Linked DNA regions of Homo sapiens: regions 1, 2, 3 and 5 are each linked to region 4. Evidence: fine-mapped expression QTL. A gene starts in region 4. Each other region holds a variant in brackets. All regions are shown on one strand. Distances are from middle to middle.

Region 1 (4,123 bases), 73 kb after region 4:
TCTCCACCTCACAGGCCTGGTCTCCAGCTTTCTTCCTATCACAGAATGACCCAGAGTGCAAACGTCCATCTCCTCCCGGGAAACTCCTGCCACTACCCAGATGGTGAGCTCTGCCCTCCAAATGCTGGCTTATCCAGTCTTAAATCGCACTTCATGTGCTATCCCAACTGCACAGCTCCCATCCATATTAAGGGGCAAAAAAAGTGGCTCTAATTCTGCAAGGATATAGTCATCTTAAAAATACATTCCATTTATATTACAAAACAGAACTTAATAAAAGGTCTGCAGCATCTACATCCGGGTTTATAATAGCTTCAATTTTCTCCAAGAAAAATAAAAGCACGTGTTTTATATTTGTGAAATTAATGTGCCCTTTTTGGTCCTTTCCACCCAAATATAGAAAATCTGCTCCAAAAGTGAATTATATTATATCTAAAATTTCTAAAATAATGACAACAATAATAATAATGAAAAACAAAGTATCAGCTCTTTTGGATATTATAGTGAATAAGGAAAAGTTTTTTTAAATGCAAAAATAATATCAAACGTTCAAAACCTATTTGTATTTTGTGACAATATAATATAGCAGTGGAATCTATGAACCCTGATTCCAGGTCTAGAATCAGACTAGCTGGGATTTAAGATCCTGGCTCTCCTATTGGCTAGCTGGGCAAATGACCTGAACTCACTGTGTTTTCCTATCCTCATCTGTAAAATGGGGTTGACAGTACCTCCCTCATAGGGTTACTATGAAGATTTAAATATATAACAGCTTAAAATATTGCCCACTGTATAATAAGTACTCAGTACATGTGAACTGTGATGATCATAATGATGATGATAATGAAGACAGTGATGATGGTAGTGGCAGTGATGGTGGTGATGATGGCTGGGTATCTGAAGGCAGTTAAAAAAAATCCTAGAAAGAGTTCCAATTTGTGCTTCTCATTATCATCATTGGTAATGAACATGAATAGTGGACATTCTCTTACTCTTCAGTGCCCTTTTATCCCCAATGTGGCTTGTGCCATTTAAAGTACAATGAGGGACTCAGAAGAAGCTATGGTTGAGCCAATCGAATCTTTCTGACCCTTCTTACTTTTGTGGTGACAGTCACGTTATCAGGAACTCTAGTGAGCACAGTTCTTTGTGGTTCTTCATGCAGGTTTAGCAGGGCAGAGCAGTGTCAAGCTCCAGGTACGAGAGGAGAAGTCTGAGGAGGACCATCAGGCTGGGAGACTGCAGGGGACAGAAAGTTAGAGGGACTGTGAGGTGAGGGGGCCAGAGGGGAGGGTCTTCAGATCATAAGGTGAGCAGCTGAAGAACTTCCCCCTGAACTCTCAGAAGATAAATCCTCTTGCTATGGCTCCCCCAAACTCCCTGGCTGTATGGGGTAGGGTAGAAGTCCAGGCTCTGGGAGTCTGGCCTTGGCTGCGTCTTCAGCGGGCTGCGAAGCTGTTAATCTTCTTATTCATCTCTCTGGACACTGCTGGTGGGAAGTAGAGATGAGATTTCTTTTCTTGATCTCTGTCCCTTCTGCTTCCACTCCCCACCTTACCTCTAGGAATCTTTTCTGCTGTCAGCTCCCAGAAGCAGGAAAGGAATCCCCAAATCAGAACTTCTCCTTGGGCCCCCATGATGTCACAGCTCAGTGGACAAAAAAGATATTCGTGACAGGGTCACTAACCTGGTTACTCATTCAGTCAATGATATTTCATTAAGAAAGCTTAAAGTGGTTAACATCATGAGTCCCCAAAAGAGCAAACTTAAGTGATCCTAAAGCGTGTCACTATATTCATTTATAATTATGAAAACAAAATACTGTGGCCAAAAATGCTTTGCGATTTTGAAGTAAAAGATGCTGTCTAAGCATTTCTGAGTGCTCAAAATGTATCCTTTATGTTAAAGAAATATGAATTAAATATAAATGATAGTTTTATGACAGTAGAGCAAATGGATATGTTTTAAGAAGGAATGAATGACCAACATTTATTATTATTATTAGTTTAATGTTTGCATGATGGCTTGCATATTTTTGAAACAAGTTATTTAGTATAAACATTAGGCAGTTTATATTTACTGTATTTACTGTTTGCTTTATCAACAGGTAGAAGGTCTTGAGTTCGCTGACGTTACTCTCAAAATACTTTCAGGTAATTGTTGTCAAACAAGAGTTGACAATTTGCATTTTCTTGATTACTAATGGTGAGTATTTTTTCTTTTTATTTTATTTTATTTATTTATTTATTTATTTTTATTTTTAATTTTTTTTGAGATGGCGTCTCCCTCTGTCACCTAGGCTGGAGTGC[G/A]GTGGCATGATCTCAGCTCACTGCAACCTCTGTCTCCTGGGTTCAAGTGATTCTCCTGCCTCAGCCTCCTGAGTAGCTGGGATTACAGGTGCACACCACCATGCCTGGCTAATCTTTTGTATTTTTAGTAGAGACGAGGTTTCACCATGTTGGTCAGGCTGGTCTCGAACTCCTGACCTCGTGATCTACCCGCCTTGGCCTCCCAAAGTCCTGGGATTACAGGCGTGAGCCACCACGCCTGGCCATGATGAGTATTTTTTCTAAGTGAAATAAGCCAGGTGCAGAAAGACAAATATCATATGTTTCATTCATATGTGGGAGCTAAAGAAGTTGATCTCATAGAAGTAGAAAGTAAAATACAGGAGGCTGGGAAGGGTAGTGGGGAAGAGGGACAGGGAGAGGTTGATTAACAAATACAAAAATATAGTTAGATAGGAGGAATAACTTCTAGTATCCCATAGTATAGCAGGGTGACTATAATTAATAATTTACTGTGTATTTCAAAATAGCTGGAAGAGAGGATTTGGAGTGTTCCCAATACAAAGAAATGATAAGTGGTTGAGCTGATAGATATGACAATTACCCTGATTTGGTCATTACACATTATATGCATGTACTGAAATATTACATATGCCCTATAAATATGTACAATTATTATGTGTCAATTAAGAAAGAAAAAGAAAAAAAGGCTTATCTCCCAGTGATCACAGGGATGAGGAAAGAAAAACACAATTAAATTTAAAAAAAGAGAAAAAAGACTATGAAATTAACTTCTCAGCTCACATCTGTGTTGCATGATCATGAGATAGAAAACCATCTTCCCATCAGTGTTTTGGAGCACCCTAAGGCCCCCCCATAAAGTTCACAGGCCACCTCTCCCACCTTTCAGATACCCCACCTTGCCAGCCTTCAAGATTTCCCCCAAGCTCTGCAGGTTCTCATTGAAACACTCAAATACTTTATTATTTATTGGAAAAAAAGGAAAATATGAGACTGGCCTCACCATTGGCTTTCATTTTCCTCTTCCCTCTCCTCCCTACCTTCTGGGTTGTGGCAGCTGTAATTGGGTTAAACTTTGTGTAATTCCGAAGCTATGCTCATAGAAAAAAATAGTGAAATTCTCTAGCGCACCTACTAATGACCCAAGAAAAACTGGAAGCTACTATAGACTTTTTTTTTCTTTTTCTAGTTTCTGGAACTCGGGGCTGATTCTTTTGAGATGCATAATTTAGTTGGAGCCAATTGATGAAGGAGTCAGTTCTTATTTAAGGAAACTGCCTTCAAGCTCAAGTAGAAATCTTGAGACCCAGTATGAAATTTCCATTTTCACATAGCATACTATAAAAAATTGTCTGTTTTTAAAAATGAACTTATGTAAAGACAGTCAATCTATTCAGTTTATGGCTTTCTTTTTTTTTCTAACTTCAAACCAAAGGTGTTTTAATTCCCATAGAAAAGTATTAACAAACAATGGTGACTAACTTCATTCTTATAATTAGCCTTTTGTGGTTGCAAAATGTCTTCACATGCTTTGTTTTTTTACTTGGTCCCATGACAGTTCTTTAAGGTCACTGGGACCTGGACTCCCACTTCTATTTGATGCCTGAGGAAACTGACCATCCAAAGCAAAGTAGGCTACCCGAGATCATGTGGCTGTTAAGTGGTGGGTCTGGGATAGGGCTCATCTTTCAACCAAAAATAATTATTCTTAATTAATGGAGTACAATTTGCAGTGATTTGGTACTTGCTTTGTAGACATACAAAGTTTATAAAGTCTCAGAAATTTGAGGATGCAGTGGGAACTCACCTTTGGA
Region 2 (4,123 bases), 75 kb before region 4:
CAGTTCCCACCTAAGAGTGAGAACATGTGGTGTTTGGTTTTCTGTCTTTGTGATAGTTTGCTGAGAATGATGGTTTCCAGCTTCATCTATGTCCCTGCAAAAGACATGAACTCATCCTTTTTTATGGTTGCATAGTATTCCATGGTGTATATGTGCCATATTTTCTTAATCCAGTCTATCATTGCTGGATATTTGGATTGGTTCCAAGTCTTTGCTATTGTGAAATAGTGCCACAATAAACATACATGTGCATGTGTCTTTATAGTAGTATGATTTACAATCCTCTGGGTATATACCCAGTCATGGGATTGCTAGGCCAAATGATATTTCTAGTTCTAGATATTGAGGAATCGCCACACTATCTTCCAGAATGGTTGAACTAATTTATACTCCCACCAACAGTGTAAAAGCATTCCTATTTCTCCATATCCTCTCCAGCATCTGTTGTTTGCTGATTTTTTAATGATCGCCATTCTAACTGGCGTGAGATGGTATCTCATTGTGGTTTTGATTTGCATTTCTCTGATGACCACTGATGATGAGCATTTTTTCATGTGTCTGTTGGCTGCATAGATATCTTCTTTTGAGAAGCGTTTGTTCATATCCTTTGCCCACTTTTTGTTAGGGTTGTTTTTTTCTTGTAAATTTGTTTGAGTTCACTGTAGATTATGGATATTAGCCCTTTGTCAGATGGGTAGATTGTAAAAATTTTCTCCCATTCTGTAGGTTGCCTGTTCACTCTGATAGTAGTTTCTTTTGCTATGCAGAAGCTTTTTAGTCTAATTAGATCCCATTTGTCAATTTTGGCTTTTGTTGCCATTGCTTTTGGTGTTTTAGTCATGAAGTCCTTGCCCATGCCTATGTCCTAAATGTATCTCCTAGGTTTTCTTCTAGGGTGGTTTTAGGTCTAACATTTAAGTCTTTAATCCATCTTGAATTAATTCTAGTATAAGGTGTAAGGAAGGGATCCAGTTTCAGCTTTCTACATATGGCTAGCCAGTTTTCCCAGCACCATTTGTTAAATAGGGAACCCTTTCCCCATTGCTTGTTTTTGTCAAAGATCATCTGTAGATGTGTGGTGTTATTTCTGAGGGCTCTGTTCTGTTCCATTGGTCTACATATCTGTTTTGGTAGCAGTACCATGCTGTTTTGGTTACTGTAACCTTGTAGTATAGTTTGAAGTCAGGTAGCATGATGTCTCCAGCTTTGTTCTATTGGCTTGGGATTGTCTTGGCAATGCAGGCTCTTTTTTGGTTTTACATGAACTTTAAAGTAGTTTTTTCCAATTCTGTGAAGAAAGTCATTGGTAGCTTGATGGGGATGACATTGAATCTATAAATTACCTTGGGCAGTATGGCCATTTTCACTATATTGATTCTTCCTATCCATGAGCATGGAATGTTCTTTCATTTGTTTGTGTCCTCTTTTATTTCATTGAGCGGTGGTTTGTAGTTCTTGAAGAGGTCCTTCACATCCCTTATAAGTTGGATTCCTAGGTATTTTATTCTCTTTGTAGCAATTGTGAATGAGAGTTCACTCATGATTTGGCTCTCTGCTTGTCTGTTATTGGTGTATAGGAATGCTTGTGATTTTTGCACATTGATTTTGTATCCTGAGACTTTGCTGAAGTTGCTTATCAGCTTAAGGAGATTTTGGGCTGAGATGATGGGGTTTTTAAAATATACAATCATGTCATCTGCAAACAGGGGCAATTTGACTTCCTCTTTTCCTAATTGAATACCCTTTATTTCTTTCTCTTGCCTGATTGCCGTGGCCAGAACTTCCAACACTATGTTGAGTAGGAGTGGTGAGAGAGGGCATCCTTGTCTTGTGCCAGTTTTCAGAGGGAATGCTTCCAGTTTTTGCCCATTCAGTATAATATTGGCTGGGGGTTTGTCATAAATAGCTCTTATTATTTTGAGAAATGTTCCATCAATACCTAGTTTACTGAGAGTTTTTAGCATGAAGATCTGTTGAATTTTGTTGAAGGCCTTTTCTGCATCTATTGAGATAATCATATGGTTTTTGTCATTGGTTCTGTTTATGTGATGGATTACGTTTATTGATTTGCGTATGTTGAACCAGCCTTGCATCCCAGGGATGAAGCCGACTTCATCGTGGTGGATAAGCTTTTTGATCTGCTGCTGAATTTGGTTTGCCAGTATTTTATGGAGGATTTTTGCATTGATGTTCATCAGGGATATTGGTCTAAAATTCTCTTTTTTTGTTGTGTCTCTGCCAGGCTTTGGTATCAGGATGATGCTGGCCTCATAAAATGAGTTAGGGAGGATTCCCTCTTTTTCTGTTGATTGGAATA[A/G]TTTCAGAAGGAATGGTACCAACTCTTCTTTGTACCTCTGGTAGAATTCAGCTCTGAATCCATCTGGTCGTGGACTTTTTTTGATTGGTAGGCTATAATTATTGCCTCAATTTCAGAGCCTATTATTGGTCTATTCAGAGATTCAACTTCTTCCTGGTTTAGTCTTGGGAGGGTGTATGTGTCCAGGAATTTATCCATTTCTTCTAAATTTTCTAGTTTATTTGCATAGAGGTGATTATAGTATTCTCTGATGGTAGTTTGTATTTCTGTGGGATCGGTGGTGATATCCCTTTTATCATTTTTTATTACATCTATTTGATTCTTCTGTCTTTTATTCTTTATTATTCTTCCTAGAAGTCTATTAATTTTGTTGACCTTTTCAAAAAACCAGCTCCTGGATTCATTGAATTTTTGAAGGGTTTTTTGTGTCTCTATCTGTTTCAGTTCTGCTCTGATCTTAGTTATTTCTTGCCTTCTGGTAGCTTTTGAATTTGTTTGCTTTTGCTTCTCTAGTTCTTTTAATTGTGATGTTAGGGTGTGGATTTTAGATCTTTCCTGCTTTCTCTTGTGGGCATTTAGTGTATAAATTTCCCTCTACACATTGCTTTAAATATGTCCCAGATTCTGGTATGTTGTATTTTTGTTCTCATTGGTTTCAGAGAACATCTTTATTTCTGCCTTCATTTCGTTATTTACCCAGTAGTCATTCAGGAGCAGGTTGTTCAGTTTCCATGTAGTTGTGCAGTTTTGAGTGAGTTTCTTAATTCTGAGTTCTAATTTGATTGCAGTGTGGTCTGAGAGACAGTTTGTTGTGATTTCTGTTCTTTTACATTTGCTGAGGAGTCTTTTACTTCCAATTATGTGGTCAATTTTAGAATAAGTGTGATGTGGTGCTGAGAAGAATGTATATTCTGTTGATTTGGGGTGGAGAGTTCTGTAGATATCTATTAAGTCTGCTTGGTGTAGAGCTGAGTTCAGTTCCTGGATATCCTTTTTAACCTTCGGCCTCATTGATCTGTCTAATATTGACAGTGGGGTGTTGAAGTCTCCCATTATTATTGTGTGGGAGTCTAAGTCTCTTTGTAGGTCTTTAAGGACTTGCTTTATGAATCTGGGTGCTCCTGTATTGGGTGCATATATATTTAGGATAGTTAGTTCTTCTTGTGGAATTGATCCGTTTACCATTATGTAATGGCCTTCTTTGTCTCTTTTGATCTTTGTTGGTTTAAAGTCTGTTTTATCAGAGACTAGGATTGCAACCCCTGCTTTTTTTCTTTGCTTTCCATTTGCTTGGTAGATCTTCCTCCATCCCTTTATTTTGAGCCTATATGCATCTCTGCACATGAGATGGGTCTCCTGAATACAGCATACTGATGTGTCTTGACTCTTTATCCAATTTGCCAGTCTGTGTCTTTAACTGGGGCATTTATCCCATTTACATTTAAGGTTAATATTGTTATGTGTGAATTTGATCCTGTCATTATGATGTTTGCTGGTTATTTTGCCCATTAATTGATGCAGTTTCTTTATAGCATTGATGGTCTTTACAATTTGGCATGTTTTTGCAGTGGCTGGTACCGGTTGTTCCTTTCCATGTTTAGTGCTTCCTTCAGGAGCTCTTGTAAGGCAAGCCTGGTGGTGACAAAATCTCTCAGCATTTGCTTGTCTGTAAAGGATTTTATTTCTCCTTCACTTATGAAGCTTAGTTTGGCTGGATATGAAATTCTGGGTTGAAAAGTCTTTTCTTTAAGAAGGTTGAATATTGGCCTCCACTCTATTTTGGCTTGTAGGGTTTCTGCTGAGAGG
Region 3 (4,123 bases), 91 kb after region 4:
TGGCTGGGCGAGGTGACTAGCGCCTGTAATCCTAGCACTTTGAGAAGCCCAAGCAGGCAGATCACTTGAGGTCAGGGGTTCGAGACCAGCCTGGTGAATGTGGTGAAGCCCTGTCTCTACTAAAAATACAAAAATCAGCTGGGAGTGGTGGTGCGCACCTGTAATCCCAGCTGCTCGAGAGGCTGAGGAAGGACAATTGTTTGAACCCGGGAGGCAGGTGAAGGTTGCAGTGAGCTAAGATCGCACCACTGCACTCTAGCCTGGTGACAGGGTGAGACTCCGTCTCAAAAAAAAAAAAAAAAAAAAAAGGCCCAAACCCCTGCCTCTCAAAGATTTCCCAGTTCCCGATCCCATATATACAGTTTTGTCTCTTGAGGCTTTGACTGCAATGGGAAACCCAGACCCTTTTATAAGAACCACAGAAACCCCCTCCTAGGACTTGTGTGCATAGCAGATGAGCTGAAGATTTGGGGCTGAAGAGAGACCTGAGAGGAAAACAGCCAACCTGTACAGGAGGTACAGGGCTGACGGCTCCCATACAGCAGTGCTAGGAATTCTTTGGCTCTTTCTCAGGGCTAGCCTCTAACTTTCTGGCTCCCTCTCCTCTTCTTTTATTTCTCTCACCTTTTCCTTCCAATAACAAAACAACAACTTTTTCTCTTTTCTCCTGCCCCCATCTCTTTTGACATCACAAAATCTCAACCACCCCCAAAATATCTTTCAAAGTATTTTCTTGAACAAATACAGTGGCAACCCTCAACATAATTCTGGAGCCAGTTTTAGTAAAAGGTATTTTTCACATCTTTGCATTTCAATTGCAGGCAATTATATTGGCTTTTTTGGGTTATTGGAAGGATGACACAACTCTGTACTGGGCACCATGGATACAGTAGTGAATAAGACGGATAAAATCCCTGTCCTTGTGAAGCTTCATCCTACTAGAAGAGCTAGACTAAAAATAAATGCATAATATTATATTTGGTAGTAGTAAATACTATTCTCCAGAAAAATAAAATGTGGTAAGGAGATAGAGACAGGAGATGGACAAGCTTTAGTGGCATTACTGGCATACAGTAAATATTTGATTAACAGAGGTGAGGATAAGTGTGGTGACTGCAGTGGTAGTGGTTCTTATCAACCCACTACTTGTTTGAGGCCAGACAATTTTGCAGCTTAACTTAGAGGAGCTAAAGATATGAAGAACTAAGAAAGTTCTTGCCACAAAGAGGGAAACAGAATATTGCAGGTACACTGAAAGGCAAAATGAAACAAAACAAACACAAAATTCTGGAGACTGGAGGTAGGTCAAAGAGAATGGAGAAGAAAAGTGATAGATGCAAAGCTATGAAACAAAAATTTAAATAAGCTTTATAAGAATTCAGACCTAAGTCTGAAACCTGGTGGGTGAATGGCACTTACGATCTTTCCTGCACTGTGGAATACAAATTTGCAGAATGCAGTTGAAAGAGCACAAAATGACTTCTGGTTAAGGATCACGGTGTATAGGCATTAATTCTTACCCTCCCCTTCTTGAAAAATCTCAAACTAAAAACAGAAAAATATTTTAGTTGCCAATGAAATAAGGATACGACTGCAATCTTAAAC[C/A]ACAAACTATGTAGCAAACCTGCCAAATGCTGTGAAATCTGGACCAAAATGAGGAAGAACACTAAAAACTAACAACATATCCTCAGACCTTGGGCAAGAGGGACATTTCCCCAAAAGAAAGTGAGATTACCCTGAAATGCCATCCAGTGATTCTTCAAGGGAGGTAAGATCCAGGGGTACTGGGGCCATGGCAGAAGAGGACTCTTCCTTTAGGCTCAACTTGATACCACAGAACATGGCAGGCAGAAAAGCAGAGGAACCAGAGTGGTACCCGATTTTTATCCAATATTCATTCTCCTTGCTGTGGGAATGACCAAGGCAGAGAAAGTGGAGGAAAATTGCATTTTCCAAATTACCAACCTTTCCAATGACAAAAATTGCGGTGTGATATACAGTTCCAGAATAAGGAAAAGAGTAGATTTGGTGAGAGGCTATAGGAGGCAATATACTGTGTTCAAGTTTACTAACATCCCTCACTACTCCCCTTCCTCCATGGATGATTTTTCAGCAAGTATACAAGATGAATGACAATCTGAAAGAACCATCCCACAGACATGCTTTGAAATGAGAGAGAAAATAAAGAAGAAAGGAATGTAGGACAAAGATAAAGAACTACAAAAGAAATCATCTAAGAAAACAAAGAGTTTGGGTAGAGTTCCCCATAATCTCAAAGAAATTATAGGAGATAAGTGTAAATAAAAAATATTACAGAAAAAAAAAGCCATACTACAGCCAGGCGCAGTGGCTCATGCCTGTAATCCCAGCACTTTGGGAGGCCAAGGCGGGTGGATCACAAGATCTGGAGTTCGAGACCATCCTGACCAACATGGTGAAACGCCGTCTCTACTAAAAATACAAAAAATGAGCCGGGCATGGTGGCGTGTGCCTGTAGTCCCAGCTACTCGAGAGGCTGAGGCAGGTGAATTGCTTGAATCCAGGTGGCGGAGGTTACAGTGAGCCCAGATCGTGCCACTGCACTCCAGCCTGGCGACAGAGCAAGACTCCGTCAAAAAAAAAAAAAAAAAAGCCATACTACAAGCAACCGAAATTAGAATAAACCTAACTTAAAACAGACAGTACTTTTAATCATTCATTCATTCATTCGTTCATTCATTCATTTAACTAATTAGTGAATACCCCCTCCATGGCTGGAGTGCTTCTAGATGCTGGGAACTTAGCAGTGTCCAAGACAACATCTCTGCCTTCATGGAGCTTACAACCTAGGGTGGATGGGGGATAGTAAAAAGTAAAGAATAAATTTTGATAGTGCTATTAAAAAAAGTAAAACAGAACAACATAATAGAGTATGAAAGGTACTGGGTGACCATGAAAGTCTCTCTCACTGCAGGATATTTTATCTGAAACCTGTATAACATCATGAAAGATTCAGGCCTGCAAATATCTGGAGAGACATTCTATATACATATTATCATAAAAAAAAGATTATAAGGAAAAAGACATGAATGATAGGTAAGGAATATTCAACAAATATATAATTGGTGTTTGCAAAGAAGAAATGAACAAAAGAAACAGAAAATATGTTCAAGAAATAGGAAAAACAATCCCAGAACAAATGCTTAAATCTGCAGTGAGAGAATAATGCTCTAATGAAAACTTACTTGAGTGACCAATACCAGTACATAAAAATAATATGGATAACCAGCCCTGAATCTAGGCTGGTCTCATGGCTTGCTTTGACCCATAGCATGTGGTGAAAATTATTTCATGGCAGCCCTGAGCTTACAGCCCGAAGAGGCCTTGCATACTTTCACTCCCTTTCTCACAGCCCTGCTACCATTTTGTGAACAAGCCTGGGCCATCCTGCTGGAGTATGAGAGATCGCAGGGCCAAGTCACCCCCACTGTCCCTGCCAAGAGATAATCAACTACCACATGAGTGAGGTGATTCTAGGCCAGTCAAGCTCCAGTTGACCCATGTCCTAACTCATTCACCCAAGATCAGCCAAGCCATATCAGCAGGACCACCCCTACAGACCTGCAGGTCTGCAGCAATGATTAATGGTGTTTGTTTTCAGCCACAGTGTTTTGGGGGTGATTTATAAGTCAACACAAGCTAAGTATGATGAATGTCTAAATGTTTTTCACAATCTTTTTCTTGGCTTTAGAGAGATGTTAGAAAATAAAGTCTTCTGTGAAGAAAAATTTACCTGAAATCCAGCGTATCCAATTATATTTTAGTTTCTTTTTCTTCTGTTAAAGGAAACTTACATTTAATACCTTTTATTTAAAATCACATTTCATATGTCTAATGGCTGCTTTTATTATAAAAATGGATTCTATTTCATCAAAATTCTACCTTTTTATTTTCTAAACTGTATGGATGTATAAACAGATGTGCAGGACAATTTTTATCCAATGTTAATAGCTGCTCTTTCATTGGCAGCAAGAGTTTGTATAATTTTTCTGTTGCTCTTTGTAGTTTTCTGTGTGGCTTGAATTTATTGTAATGGGCATGTATCAACTTTGTAAAAACAGTTGAGTCATTCTTTTAAAAGAGC
Region 4 (4,123 bases):
CAGGAACTTTATACATGAAAAAAGCACAGCTTTTGTGAGCATGTTGGACATAAAACAAAACACCACATTAAAGGAAAGGCTGGAGCGCAGACAGGGCAAATGAACTCATGTGAGCCCTTCTGCAATCACTGTTACGGCTTTGTATTTATTCATCTTGCACCGCACTTAAATGTGCAATAAAAAGCAAAAAGTGTGCAACACTTATTACTCTAGCTGCTTTTACTTGTTCCATAGAGATACGTGAAACAATTTCACTGCTCAGATTGAGGGAAAGAGGAGCTCATCTCATTTCAAGCCTGTAGCTGCTGCCACAGCCTCAGCACCATGTTCTAATCATAGAATTCATCATGTAAATCTCTAGCAGATGATGCCATTGGAAAACAGAAACTGCCATGGATCCAGAAATGCTTCCAAATTTCTCCTCTAAAGTTCTTATCTGTGAGCCCAGAGGCTGGTGCTGTTTTATTCAAATGGGTGAGGCCCATTGGGAAACCCGCATTCTTTGGGAGACTTTATGAAGAATTTCAACCATTCCTTGACTATAGAAAGGGCCTTTATCATTTATTTCACATATGAAAATGCTAAATATTTCACAACTACTCCAACTTATTTCTGAGTGTCTAAATCTATTCTGAAAAGGGTATGCATCACACACATACCTGTGTAGCTTATTAACTACCAATAAGAGCTCACACAAATTGCAGGGGGTATGAAAGAGTAGACTTCTGGAACTGTCCAGAAAAGAAGAGAAGGTACATTTCCTGGTTTTAAGATGAAAGAGCTTGTGTAAATTAGAACATTACAGGAGCCTTTTAAATTGTCTTAGGGATACCTTTGGGGCATCATCGCTGGTTCCTGGTGAGTCTTTTTTCTCCCTGTGATGTTAACAGGAAGTCCCTAAAACTGGCTTTGCTATTAAAATACAGACATCTGCTGCTCTCCTAATTTTTGTTCCTTTTAAAAGGCAGTACTCCCAAGAAACTCTTGGATATTGTGAGAATTAAGAGCTGGGAGATGGGGATGGAATCTTTGTCTCCCTAACACATTCATCAGTTCCCTCCCTAGAGCCCCCCTACAACCTCAGCACACAGCAGCAGCCCACTCCTCCAAATACGCCAGGGCTGGAAAGATTCATGTTGCAATACCCTCCTGACATTCCTCATTTTAATTCGCTCACTTTTTTTTTTTTTTTTTTTAAACAAAATGTAATTACTTGACTGTCAGCCTAGGCTGCACTCTGGGGCTTTTACTCCTTTCAACACAGCTGCGCTCCCGGCTTTGATGCTGCTGTCCACGCAGCTTGTCCCAGCCACAGCCTGGCTCTCAGTAATGTAACATTCAAGTGCATATTTATTTTTAAACTGACCTCTCCTAGACTGCACAGTATAAAGGAGATCCTGCCCAAAAATATGCTACTTTCTATTTATAAGATGAAACACATGCCTCCCAAAGTCGAGAGAGGGATAGAGTATAATAATTCATAACGAAAAAATGGCCAGATCCATTCATCCTCACATGTCTGATACTTGTCTGTGTCAAGCCACTTAGTTTCAAGGAGAAAGGGAAGAAAACAAAAAACAAAAAACCTTGTAAACGTCTCAGCTGTTCACCGTCAAAAAACAAAAAAGTCAATATCCAGATCTGCAGGTTGGCGCCCCACTAACAATGTCCTCCATTAAGAAAGAGGAGGGCACCGGGCAGGCGATGCCACGGCAGAGCTGTGCGATGCACCCATGTGCGGCCCTGGTACCAATCCATGATGCGAGGGGCGCGGTAGCCAAGCGCGGCTTGTTCTCAGATGGAAAAATGCTATACGCGCCCAGAATGGCTCTGCCAATAGCTCGGAGGGTGCAATGTGGCCGCGCAGCCCCACCCTGAAAAGTAGTGGGCACAAATGGTGGAGCTCTGAGTCCTGGTCGTGCCGCCGGACCCCCTCCTGGCTTGCTTTATGTCCCCTTCGTTCCGTTGGACACTAGATGGGAAAGCGATGCCCTGGGTATCCCGACTCCCTGCTGGTTTCCCAGCCTAACACCAGCGCACGCCGGAAGCGGCCACGGCCGCGGGCGGGACAGACTCACAGACAGGTAGAGAGGAAGGAGCCCTGGGCTGCCCCGACTCACCGGCCGCCGCTGAGGATCCCAGCCGCTGCCCCGGGCCTCCCGCGGGCGCACGCAATCCCTGCCGCTGTGCGCAGATCCAGCCGAGTCTGCCGGCGTGGTGCCTGCTCACCGCATTATCCGCTCCGAGACGGCGTGAAGGCGCCCCAGGCCGGTGGCCGGGTCTCCGGGCTAGCCCCGCGCTGCGGTCCCCCGGCCGCGAGAGAAGGTGCGCGCGACTGAGCGCGGGGCGGCCGGACGCGAGGACTGAACCTGCGGAGGGCGGGGCGGCGCGGGGCGGGGCCGGCGGCGCGGGGACTCACTGGGGCGGGGCGGAGGGCGCGGGCAGCGGGGCCGACCCTCCCAGCCGCGGTACCTGTGCCCTGGCCCGGGGCCAACCGGTGGCCGGGCGCGCGCGCGGGGGGGGGTCACCGTTGGACCCTCGGAGGACAATGGGCGCCCATTGTTACCTCCCCAGCGCCACCCCCCAGTAGGCGACTTCTCTCGGAGAAGATGCCGCTTTCGACTCCCTAAGCACAAAGAAAGGTCGCCGGACGCTCGGTTTAAAGAGGGACCCGGAGGTGCTGCCGCCCGGGTGCACGGGGACAATAGGACTCCGCCCGCACCCCGGACTCCCGCACTAAAACTCGTGCGCCCACCTCTCCCGATCCCAACAGGCCGACCTAGCTGTGCGAGTGGCGGGCGGTGACCCGCAGGGAAGCGAGGCCACCTGAGTGCGCCGCCCCGGCCAGGCCGCAGCTCCCCAGGTCCCTCTCAGCCCGGGCTCCGGTGGGCGCGGAGGGGGAGGGTCGCGTTCTGTCAGTTTCTAGCTCGCTCCCCTCAGAGCTGCAGCCAAAACCCGGAGAGTGGAATAAGCGCCCTGAAGATGCCGGAGCTCCCGGCTGAGCAACTGGACACGCGACGAACAGCAGACGCTACAGGTTCTCCTACCCAGAGGGAGGCGTTTCTTCTCCCTCAGGGTCTTTCAAAAGGATTTGCCTAAAGCTGGGGCAAGCCGGTGGCGGCTGCCCCAGACGCGCGACGAGGCGCAAGTGGCGCAGCTGCCGGCCCGAGAGAGTAAAATTCAGGCCGCGGTGGCACCTGCGCCCGCCGGTCACCCGGCCACCGCCAGCGCCGCCGCCCGGCGCGCCCCTCCCCTCCGCCGGGGCCGGAGCGTGAACCGGGTTAATGAATGCTAATTTTCTTAATCGGCCTCCGTCTCTTCCTCCTCCGCGAGTCGTCGGCCTGGGGAAGGAGTAGGCGACAGGAAAGGGCGGTGTTTTCCGGCTGGGAGGTCCCAGCCCGCATGGTCAGCCAGGGGAGGGGGCTGGGACCCCTGGGAGTCGGACGCTGGGGGCCTGGCCTCTGCCCTGAGACTCTCGGGTTGGATGGAAATCCTGGCACAACGCGGAGAACCTCCCGGATACCTTGGCTTTGCCGAGAGATATCAGCTTCAGGTCATCACCGCGGTGCCCTGGGTCTGTCTGAAACCTTAGAGGGTGCGCCTTAAGCCGATGTTGTAAACCCAGGCTGACTTTAAGGTGAAGTGAAAAGGAAACGCACACAATCTGGAAAGCAAAATACTTGGGTGGGGTGTTAAAAGCCTCAAAGAAAAATAGTAGTTGGCAGGTCAAATGGCCATGAGGTTGGAAGTCAAATACGAAACTCGGCTGAAGTGATGTTAGAAGTTTGACAAGCAAAAACAGTCCGTGAAGATAAGAGACCCAGCATTGTTTCCCTTCTTCAAAAGACAACTCGTCCAAAGTTTCCTTTGGCAGATACCTGGATTCTACTCCAGATTCCTGAGCATTTTACTTGGGTTTCATATTTCAAAATATATGTTCCATTTGGCACTAATGTATATATTTTATATATTAATTTATTGAAAAATATTAAATGTTCCTGGCCTACTTAGAAAAAGGTATTTTTATAAATATTTATGCATAGTTTTCATTACATAGGGTATTTTATAAGTCCAAATAATATGTGTATATATATAAAATACCACATGCAAAATTCCTTTTGAA
Region 5 (4,123 bases), 49 kb before region 4:
TTTCATTAAGTTATACAGCATCTCACTCTATAAGGCTGTGTAATGATGACAGTCATGGACCTGCTCACTCATGATCTGGGTGGTGAAGAGTTTTGGATTTAGAATTAGAAGAGGTAATTGGATTAGATTAGAGTCTCACCTGATGTTACTTAGCTGGGTGACTTGAAGCACATCACTAAAATTGTCTGAACCTCAATTTCATTATCCGTAAATTTGAAGGAGATATCATTTATTTATAGAGTTAAGACCAAAAATCGTAAGTGTAAAAGTTCTCTGAAGATGGTACAGTGCTCTACCATGATATACTATTTCTTAGGTACAAGCTATTATTTATTAGGCACAGCAACAGACTAGGAGCTAGGAGAAATTCAGAAGTCTTTTTTATAGCCTGCCTGACAACCTCTTTAATTATTTTCCATCTGCTCAAGAAGCTCCAAGCCCTGGCCACACTGAACTTTTTAATTTATCCTTTACACGATTTGCTCTCTCATATCTCTGTGCTCGTGCGTAACACCCCTCTCCTATGATCTCCTATGCATCTTTCAGAGGCTCTTTTCAGCTCTATTGGTAGTTTTCCTCTTCTAGGTGCCTATGCATTTTGTTCACAACTCTTATGGCATTTCCTACAGTGTGTTATAATTCATCTGTTTATATATATGCTTCTGCTCCTTCCTAAGCTATAAGCTTCTCAAGGAGACATGCTGCCATCTGTATTAAGTGTGCCTGGTACATAGTGGACATCCAAAGGCTTGCTCAATGAATGCATGACTAGAGGTGTAAGAATTACTGTCCTGATCCTCATACACATTACAACCTAATCGAGGATCATGACAAATAGACATGAAACACTAGCAAAATAAACAGGAAAAAGGATTCTGTGATGTAGGTGCAAACCCTTAGCATTGCATAAATTCAGAGGAGCAGGAGACCTTTGAAAGCTAAAGGAATCAGGGAAAGTTTCTGTATGTGGAATTGCTTAATGATAAGTGATGAATGGGGAAATCATTAAACCCACCAGAATTCCTTCAGGGAGAAAATCCTGTTAATTTGGAAGGTACGTAGATGCTAAATACTCAAGGGATCTGCTTCGGGGCAAAGCTGTACCATAAGAGGAAGAGCATTTAGCTATTGTTCTAAGAGATAAGGATGAGGAAAGGGAGAGTGGAGGTGGATTGAAGATGATGGCTGAAGACCACACACCCAGCAAATCTCAATGACATTGACTAAATCCTGAAGTGCTTGAACTGAATGGATTTTTTTAAAAAAGGAAACAATGAATGGACTCAAATTATCCATTCCTTGTGAATATAGGAACGTGGAAACAAAGAGGGAACCAAGGCACAGCTATTCAGAGAATACGAGATGGCCTTCTCAGGGTTCAAAGAGATAGATTTGGGGTTTGGGCCAGGTTTAACCAAATCTCTCAGGATTGCAGCTGAGGAGCAAAGAAAAGGGGAAGCTGATATCTGGATGACAATATCCAAATGAGTTGCATCTCCAAAGCAGAGAATTGGCCATGGGTCTTAAGGAATCATCCAAGTTAAAGCAAAATAATACTTCAGCCCTCTATATAAACATTCCTGTAGCCACTGCCCCCTAGACCTATAGTTTATAAATCTCAGTCTACCCAGTATGCTGATGGAGGAAAAGCTTTCACCTAAACACCGACCGTGTGAGTTGTTCATAATACTAAATTCATTTAACTTACAGAACTATATTTCAAAATGTTATTTTTCTGACATAATTGTTCGTTTTTAAATGAATT[G/C]ATGGCTTTTGATGTCTTTACGTGGCAAAATTAAAATGTGTCAACTTCGTGTTCATTTTCTAAATTTCTTAGAGATTTTATTGGTCTATAAAATCCAAAATTTGAAGAACCACCTCTTTTAATATGACCCATAGTATCATTTCAGTTAGCTAATTTGCTCTGAATTAAATGGCAGATTTATTTTCAGTTCCTGAATTCATTACTGGTGGTCATGGTTGGTGTGGTTTATTAAGGCAATTCCTTTTCGAGTCACATCATTCGTAGCCTCTTCAAATTAAAATTTGTGAACAGGTATACTGCCACAGGTACCCTGAAGGCTGTCTGCATATGAACAGGGTTTGGTTTTGTAGTCAATATGCCATTCAACAAGATGAACCCCACAGTTAGTAAAAACAATAGCTTGCATTGTATTATTACAAAGCAGTGTTTGTGTAATGATTACATATTTTCACTTACATAATTATGAAATGTACAAGTGTGACTGCTGCACAGTAATTAGTCACAAATGGCACACATTTCATGTAAATGGCTGCAATTCCTGTGACTCTTCCTATTGGGGCTAGCTTCATGAGCGTGTGACCTATCTAGTCCCACAGGGTCCCCTTGCTCAAGAGGGCCCCATGTTTGGTTTAATGTGCTGTGGCTGCTGTCTTGAAATTGTTCATAATTTTTGACAAGGGGACCCACCCCACATTTCCCCTTTACACTGAGCCCTCCAAATTACATGGCCATATCCAACTGCTATTGCAAAGATTCAAGCTGGGCTGGGAGGTAGAAATAGAAGGACCAGGTAGAGAGGCAGGGAGCAAGACTGAATCCTTTTAGTCATCTCAGGAGCCTCTGCCTCCAATCCAACAAGAAGGGCTTCTCCTGTTACTTAGAAAGTCTTGGCTCTTTTATTCAACTGGAACAAGGAAGAAGAATTAGCTTTTCAGAAAATAAAAAGTTTTGGTTAGGTCACAGTAAGGGGGAGCTGGGGAGATGCTATGGTTTTGATATGTCCCCAGATTTCATGTGTTGGAAACTTAATCTCCAAATTTGTATGTTGATTGGAGATGGGGCCTTTTGGAAGTAATTAGGATTAGATAAGGTCATCAGGGTTGGAGTCCCCATGATGGGACTGGTAGCTTAATAGGAAGAGGAAGAGAGATCTGAGCTGGCATGCTCTTGCCCTCTCACCATGTAATGGTGAGAAATCAATGTCTTTTCTTTATAAATTACTCAGTCTGTGGTATTTTGTTATAGCAACAGAACATGAACTAAGACAGATAATTGATACTGAGGAGATGGGCTATTGCTAGTAAGAAATACCTGAAAATGTGGAAGCAGCTTTGGAAGTGGGTAATACATAGAGGCTAGGCTCTGAGAATAACTCACAGTGGTCAAGTGGCCTAGGAGGTGCCTTCAGGGAGACCAGAAGCACTTGATGGGATAAATAGTGGTCATAAGATAGGCAGTGTAAACTACCTCACTCTTCCCCACTCTTCCGTAGCATCTGCTGTGAAGATACTGTTTCTTATGGTTTTGTTAGTGGATTTCTTTGTGGAGCTCAAAGTTCTGAACCCAGGTTGATTCAACGTGAAAATAAACATTGATCGTGCAGGCTCAAGGAGCCAGAAGACAGGGGTCGGGGGATGGAAGGCGGGACAGTGGGCAATTGGGCTCAGAGTGATGTGTCCTCAGTGAGAATTCCAGTTTTGCCATAATCTTCCCTGTGAAGTTCTGAGAATGAGTGTACAATGCCATAATGTCCTGGACTATGGTGGGGATGGTGGGTGTTCCCCACACTTGAGCAGAACGAAGCCTGTGTAAGCTGTGAAACTGTCAGCTTTGGAGATTAGTCATCCTTGCTCAGACCCTATAAAGCTTTTGCATTAGTTAGGCTGATGTTTCACTTTTAACTCATATAATAGGCTTCAGACACTTGGAAATAGTGCTTTTATCATTAGGTATGTTGCCATTTTTATTTTTTCAAGTTTCTCGCTCTCTCTCTCACCACATAAGTACACTTAAAGCTTTACCCTTGCTATGAGGTTAACCTAAGGCAGAGGGTATGTTGCCAGCTATAGGCCAAAAGTCTGGGTAGGCATGCGAGAAAGAAATATTTTGGTAGCAATATAGCTTAGGAAGTCAATATTTTTTAACATAAGTGACAGCAAATATTTACAAATTCAGGCTACTGTGGGTGTTCAGATTCTGAGTGAAAAGCAATCTCATGCACTGATATTTACTTTGAATATGTTCTCCTTTTTTCAGCACCCATGACTAATTCCCCTTTTCACAGGGTGAAGAGCAAGTTGGCTCTTGATCTAGCCAGAAAAAAAAAAAAAGGTTTTCTTATACTTCTGGTAGTAGGCA

Direction of the effects. Alleles are on the strand shown, and positions count from the first base shown. SD is a standard deviation of normalised expression in the study named. Not every link is listed here.
For the expression in subcutaneous fat of the gene that starts at base 2,337 in region 4, allele G in region 1 goes with a lower level than allele A (moderate effect, 0.47 SD a copy in TwinsUK).

What was found. PIP is the estimated chance that this variant, and not a neighbour inherited with it, causes the effect.
Region 1: its variant is the best candidate, but not a certain one, in a credible set for the expression of CDC42EP3 in subcutaneous fat (TwinsUK, PIP 0.68).
Region 2: its variant is the best candidate, but not a certain one, in a credible set for the expression of CDC42EP3 in whole blood (INTERVAL, PIP 0.56).
Region 3: its variant is the best candidate, but not a certain one, in a credible set for the expression of CDC42EP3 in whole blood (TOPMed, PIP 0.61).
Region 5: its variant is the best candidate, but not a certain one, in a credible set for the expression of CDC42EP3 in whole blood (INTERVAL, PIP 0.70).

The regions. Positions count from the first base shown.
Region 1 is chr2:37,742,345-37,746,467 of GRCh38, forward strand. It overlaps LOC107985869 (a long non-coding RNA gene), which reads left to right and starts at 1,085. Exons shown (of 3, transcript XR_001739409.2): 1 at 1,085-1,272; 2 at 2,108-2,153. The variant G/A (reference allele first, on the strand shown) is at 2,310.
Region 2 is chr2:37,594,410-37,598,532 of GRCh38, forward strand. The region is part of intron 1 of LINC03063 (long intergenic non-protein coding RNA 3063); the gene reads left to right. Among named protein-coding and RNA genes, the nearest start is that of LINC03063, 34 kb to the left of the region's middle. The variant A/G (reference allele first, on the strand shown) is at 2,318.
Region 3 is chr2:37,760,777-37,764,899 of GRCh38, forward strand. The region is part of intron 2 of LOC107985869 (a long non-coding RNA gene); the gene reads left to right. Among named protein-coding and RNA genes, the nearest start is that of CDC42EP3, 91 kb to the left of the region's middle. The variant C/A (reference allele first, on the strand shown) is at 1,606.
Region 4 is chr2:37,669,306-37,673,428 of GRCh38, forward strand. It overlaps CDC42EP3 (CDC42 effector protein 3), which reads right to left and starts at 2,337. Exons shown (of 2, transcript NM_006449.5): 1 at 2,121-2,337. RefSeq lists silencers at 2,126-2,615, 2,786-2,845, 2,856-2,925, 3,146-3,315.
Region 5 is chr2:37,620,651-37,624,773 of GRCh38, forward strand. No RefSeq gene overlaps it. Among named protein-coding and RNA genes, the nearest start is that of CDC42EP3, 49 kb to the right of the region's middle. The variant G/C (reference allele first, on the strand shown) is at 1,766.